Linked DNA regions of Homo sapiens: region 2 is reported to be linked to region 1. Evidence: microRNA targets listed by miRTarBase, many of them from high-throughput screens and not tested one by one. Region 1 holds a microRNA gene; the other region holds the end of a gene's coding sequence.

Evidence for each region. The annotated mature microRNA hsa-miR-3919 reads GCAGAGAACAAAGGACUCAGU and lies in region 1 at 1,727-1,747, shown strand. An mRNA with a match to its seed (bases 2 to 7 or 8) in the 3' UTR can be bound and repressed. Matches are read on the target gene's strand: a 7mer-m8 pairs with bases 2 to 8, a 7mer-A1 pairs with bases 2 to 7 and ends in A, and an 8mer does both.
Region 2: miRTarBase lists ATP8A2 as a target of hsa-miR-3919. Seed matches in the 3' UTR shown: 7mer-m8 at 1,244-1,250.

Annotation. Positions count from the first base shown.
Region 1 is chr3:159,280,974-159,284,138 of GRCh38, forward strand. It overlaps MIR3919 (microRNA 3919), which reads left to right and starts at 1,673; the gene lies at 1,673-1,761. All of the region lies in intron 4 of IQCJ-SCHIP1 (IQCJ-SCHIP1 readthrough), which reads left to right. All of the region lies in intron 1 of SCHIP1 (schwannomin interacting protein 1), which reads left to right.
Region 2 is chr13:26,019,693-26,022,877 of GRCh38, reverse strand. It overlaps ATP8A2 (ATPase phospholipid transporting 8A2), which reads right to left. Exons shown (of 37, transcript NM_016529.6): 37 at 1-2,990. The coding sequence ends at 2,893. Among named protein-coding and RNA genes, the nearest start is that of SHISA2, 31 kb to the left of the region's middle.

The DNA.
Region 1 (3,165 bases):
TCCACGATTGCATGTGTTAAATACATTCCCTATGTGACATGTGGGGCAATCGTGGCTGTGGAGGCTTCTGTTTGGGTGCTTGGATGGACCCTACTGAAGATCACAGGACCTTTATAGGTCTTTCACAATCTCCCACATCAGTCTTTTTTGAAAGAGAGCTATTGCTTATGCAAAAGTCGCCCTTGCCAACTAAACCAAAGACTGGGCTAATTAGAAGCTAGGAAAAAGAAATACATCCTCTTGGAACTTCATTTTGGGATTTTGGAAGGAAGAGAAAGGCAGGAAGACCTGCTAGAATCTGGGGAAACATTTATTCATTCCCTGTAATTAATGTTTAAGCTATGTGATCATAATTACACCGAAATATTCTAAGTGGTTTACTTTATTTGGACAAGAATTATTTTCAAATACATAGGATTCCACATATGCGCCTAAAACACATATGCACATATATTTAAAAAATAATATGCTTTATATATTAAAAGATGATAAATTTTCAGTGTCAAGAGCTAAAAAGTATAGTTTTGAATGAATGTGCTTACACTTCTTAATGTATGTACATTTTGTATTTTCATGAAGACCTACAAATCTGTGCTGTGTCAGTGGAAGAAGGGAGCTATTTACATTTTAGAGCAAAGTACAGTGATCACTAATTTATCAAAAACTGACAGGAAATGAGGCTTCTGTATAAATGAAATCTATCAATAATGGACGGTTACTTTTTTTTCAGTCAACACATTTTGAATGGCATTGTTTCTAAACTACATTGTAATATTCTCTGTCTCATTTTATAGCAATGCCTATTCATTTATCGTTGTAATGTGTATATTCATTTTAGAAAATATGAAATGTTAAAAAATATATCTCACCATTAATCCAACAAAGACCCCTATTGTTAACATTTCAGTGAATTTCCTTGGAGATTCCGAAATGTGTATACACTAGGTATTAGTATGAATATATATAAATATAGCTCTTAAACATATTTTCAACATTTTTCACTGTGCTTTTAAAAACTTAATATTTTAATTTCTGTGTCATTAAAATTTCTTAAAGTTTTATGGTACAGTGTGAATGAGTAATATGAAATCACATAGACATATAATTTATTGAACTATGCCACTATAGTTATCAATGTCAACATTGAGTGTTCATATATTTTCATATTTTTGTTTCCTTACAAGAGATTACTGTAAGTATAATAAAAATTTATATAACATTTTTAAGGATATTGATATATATTGTTACATCCCTAGAACTGTTGTGCTAGTTCTGTTAATTTAATAGATTGAAAGTGGCCTGTGTTTAAAACCTGAATTTCTTTTTTAGTTGTTGAGGCTTAACATTTTCACATTTTGTGGCCATGTTGACTTATTCTGTGAATTGTCTATTGTTTCACTGAGATTTTATGTGTTAAATATTACGTATATATTATTAAGCTTTTGCATTCGTATATGTGAGATATATTTTCCTAGATTGCATATTTCAATCTTTAGAATTTTAAATTTTTTTTTGGAAATAAAACCTACTTAGTATCCCATTCACCTATATATTTTTGTGTTTTTTGAAAACTGGTTTCAACTTTATCATTTGTCTTAAGTTCATTGAAATTTTGGTGTATGGCATAATGAGAAATAATAGTCTTATTTTATTCCAAGTAGTTAACCCTTTACCTGAGCACCATTTACTGAGTCCTTTGTTCTCTACTAGTTTGTAGTAGTTCGTAGCAGAGAACAAAGGACTCAGTAAATGGTGCTCAGGAATCTTTACCATATGTTAAAAATAAATCCATTAGAATCTGTTTCTGAACTACCTTCATGAATAGACATGGTTTCACATGTCTATTCTAGTACCTATATTTTACTGTCTTAAATATTACATTTATATGATGAATTTTAATATCTAGCAGGGAATTCTCCACTTCATATATTTTCATGTTCTTGGATGGTCAGACTCATTCCAGATAAACTCTACAATTGTATAGTTAAGAAATTATTTAGAGACTTTAATAGCAATTGCATCAAATCTGTAAACTAATATAAGAACTGATACCTTTGCAAATTTGTTCTTACCATCTAGGAACGCTGTGTAGATAAATAAATATTGATAAGGACCTAAATATGCATAAGAACACGAATAGATATAGATATCAGGAAAGATTTGAAATTTCATATGTTTTATATTTTTTATTTTTTTTGAGACGGAGTCTCACTCTGTCGCTCAGGCTGGAATGCAGTGGTATGATCTCAGCTCACTGCAACCTCCGCCTCCTGGGTTCAAGTGATTCTCCTGCCTCAGCTTCCCGAGTAGCTGGGATTACAGGCCCATGCCACCATGCCCGGCTAATTTTTGTATTCTCAGTAGAGACGAGGTTTCACCATGTTGGCCAGGCTGGTCTCGAACTCCTGACCTCAGGTGATCCGCCGCCCGCCTTGGCCTCCCAAACTGCTGGGATTACAGGCGTGAACCATCATGCCCGGCATATTTTTTACTTTACTTACTATGATTGTTCCTATGTACATGGATTATGGATTATTTCCTTTTTTTTTTTTTGAGACGGAGTTTCGCTCTTGTTGCTCAGGCTGGAGTGCAATGGCGCGCGATCTTGGCGTGAGCCACCGCGCCTGGCTATTTCCTTCCTTTTGTTCCACCTCTAATTGGTTATTACTATAATATAGGAAGCGATGGCTTTTTGTTGTATTGATTTGTATCTTTTCAATTTATTAAAATCTCTTAATAGTACTTCAGAATTTTTTTAGTGGATTCTTTCGAGGTTGTTAACCATGTAATTTTCTCAACTGCAAATAATACTAAATTGCCTCTTCCTTTCCAAAAGTCTTATTGTATTGATTAGAAAATTCAACCTAAGCAAAATAGGTTGTCTTATTATCCATAGTTGATGCGATGAGTTATGGTCTGTTCTTGCATTGTGGTATTGCTGTTTGGTTTTAACGGGTAGTTCTTTATATGTTGCTTTTTATTTCTATTTTATGGTATGTTGTTTAAGTTTTTACATCTCTGCTTAAAAACGAAATTCACCTGTAGTTTGTATTTCTTTCAAGTTTGAATCAGGGCTGTGCAAGCTTCGTAAAATGAAAAGCTTCCTAGATTTTCCTTTGGTCTCTAATTTCATATAGCATGGTAATTACATGTTCCTTGAAAGTT
Region 2 (3,185 bases), not on the chromosome of region 1:
CAGAGTCAGGCCCTGGAGCGCTAACCGAGCGTGACCTGCCAGCCCGTGAGTCAGTGAGTGTCTGGCGGAGTGACAAGCCCCATGTGGCATTTTTGCTGAGCTGACAGCCAGCGTATGCAACCTAGTCCAGTCCACCCTGCCCCAGGGGAGGGGTTGTGTGTGACACTCTGACCTCAATTTAAAGATAGGACAAATGACACAGCCCCTGAGTTGGCCCTGGCTAAATATTATACATCACACGTAGTGACAGCTGCTCCTCCTAGAAACCAATTTACAGCCAATTTAGTCATTTGGCTGTAAGAATGCTCAACCACATGAGAGGATAGAAAGGCATCTCTTCTAATGTTTTCTTCTGTGTGCGTCTGTCATCACTGCAAATATTGTTTAGTCTACTTCTCAAGAGAATAGGAAAATACACCTGTATCCTTAAATCCCAGAAAATATGAACTCTAATGTAAGAAACAAAAACCCCAAACAAACACAAACACACACTTAAATACATAATTCTGATTTGGAAGGCTTCAAGTTCAAGACAGAGCTAACTGTTTGACAAAGAATTCAATTTCTAATCCACTCTTTCCAAATAGGCTTAGTTCCCAAATGAGACAAAATATGAATAGTTAAGATGCCTAATGCACATTCAATTCCAGTTTTCGTTTCTCCTCTGTATCTTGGCCATCACCTTTCTGGGTGTGCAAAGAAACCATACACCTTGGTTTGTCGTGTTAGTCATAGGCACATTTTGTGTTAGAGTTCCTGCATGACAGTCCTTCCGTCTTGCTGGGTACTCTGATATTTAAAAATGTTCTATGCACCTTGGGGAGAAAGAAATGGCCCTTTTTGGAGCCTCACCTGTGAATTGCATTGTTCTGCTGCCCCTCAGGCCCTCTCTGCATCCTGGTCACCTCATAAGTGAGGATGAGTTTTCTTAGTCAATGCAGATCATATTTTAAATCATTTCCATGCCCAGTAGGTTGTAGATTTCTGACAAAAAAGGGTTAGGAAGCAAAGTGCACTAAAGTGTTATTTCCTAATTTAGCACAATCATTCCTACAGGGTTGACTCATCCTCCGACTCTAGAGCTAAGAGTGACAGGTGTGCTCCTTCGCTGCACAGTCATGTGATAAATTCATTCATTTCCCCACAGTGAAAATCCAAAACATGCTCTCCACTCCCATTTTTCACCAGTAACAGTTGCCCACAAGTATTTAGGCCATCCAAAAATCTGGTTTGGCAACCAGAGCAGAGAACAGGGCTCCAGGCAGGTTGTTTAGTAAGGGCTCCAGGTGCTCACATTCATGCCTGAAGACATCTAGGTTCTGTTGAGATTTAAGTGTGGGACTCTGCAGTTGGGAAAGTCAGTGATTCCGCTCTTCACTTCCTTGTCTTAGATAATTCAGGATATGCCGTATTCTGATAGGTACCTGTGTCTAACACTGATGGGATACAGAAAGGAAACCATGTCAGTATATTTTTTAAAAAGGTGTTTCCCTGAAATGTTTGGAATTCTTTTCAATTAGAACTGTGTGTGAAGGTCTTGTTTAAGCTCTCATACACACTGGGCTGATCATGACAATTGTCTGGGTCTCAAGGCCTATTTCAGAGTTTCTACTGCAAAGATCTGGTGGCGATTCCTCTGTGTCCTCCTCTCAGTGTCTCCGTGTCCTTCCTTCTCCTTCTGAGGACTTCTGTGGTCGTCTTGTTCTCCCCACTCAATGTCCTATACTCTTGCATCTGGGTTTACTCATCCTCTGACTCTAGAGCTAAGAGCGACAGGTGTGTTCCTTCGCTGTGCAGGCATGTTATAAATTCATTCATTTCCCAACAGTGAAAGTCCAAAATGTGCTCTGAAACAAACGTGGGTTCTAATGTAAGTGGATGCCAAAGGCCCAGCAGTCTGGATGTTGGGAAGGGAGTATTCAGAGCCTGACCACGGCTGGGAGTCCTGAAGGGGTTCTACCACCACTCTGACCTGTGGGGTGGCCCCATGTCAGACAGAGGCAGAGAGACGTTTAGAATATATGCAGAAAGGCTATGTTTCTTTTCTTTCTTTACAGAACGAGAAGGGCGGTGGAAGAAGGAATTTTTCGCATCTGTATCTGAGTCTGCAGTGGAACAAGGAAAGGCGCGGGTTTGGGTTGGCTGCCCATCGGCCGCCATGCACTGAGTGGTGTGGCCAGCCATGCAGCAGGTGTGGGGGTGAGGGGCGCCTGGACACGGCGGCAGGACTGGGCCGAGTGCACCTGGAGAGGGTGCGGAAGACTCTTCCAGGGCATCAGTTGGTTTGCCCTGCTGGAAATGTGGCTAAGAGGTTCAAATAAATGTTCTCAGGTTGACCACCCCGATAGAGAATTTTGTGATTTCACTGCAATCAAGAAGTTTATGCCAATTTTACACACAAAACAGGAATCAAAGCAGGAGAGCAACCTGCCTACAGTGAAGTCTGCATGTGGCCCGTTGGACTTAACCTCTGAGTTAACTCAACAGGAAGCAAGTGTGCCCTGCTCCAATTACACAGGATGGGCCTCTCACGCAACATAAAACTCCTTTCCCTTTCTCCCAGGACAACTAGTACTGATGTTTAAATATTGGTGAAACATAATGTTTTTAATTTCACACCTCACAGAGCACAGTTGAATGCTTCATAACGACATAAACAAAAGTTAGGCTAAGCACTGCAGACGAGTTGGGAGGGCAAAGATAGCTTCCCCTGTGGTCTGCACTCCAGGTTTGCGAGGGAATATGTAACTAACAAACTGCTTGGCTAAGGCCACAGAAATGTGTTTCCTGGTGTTTTGGCTGCTGACGCCAGTCTTCTCTGACAAAGATGTGTTAACACTGGGTGCAACAAACTGAATCTCTTTCCTAAGATCAGTCAGGAAAATTCATGTCTTATTTCTTCCTGGATTTCTTTTTGGTGGTGTCATAAGCACGGATGACTTCTTCCTGACTAACAGCTCCGTGTTCTTCTTGAGAAAAAGCATACCCATCTGAAAGTGAAGCACACAGGAGAAACTGGTTAACAGGAGAATTGGGGGAGCACACTAGGTTTAAAATAAGCTGCTTTTTTTTGGCAGCGTGCGGGTGAGTGCGACATCTGGCCTCCTTAGCCTTGGATAGGTGGAGGCTTGAGATGAAGAAACCTGTGGCCATAGAGGGGCCGTGGCGGCCGTGTGCAGGCTAAC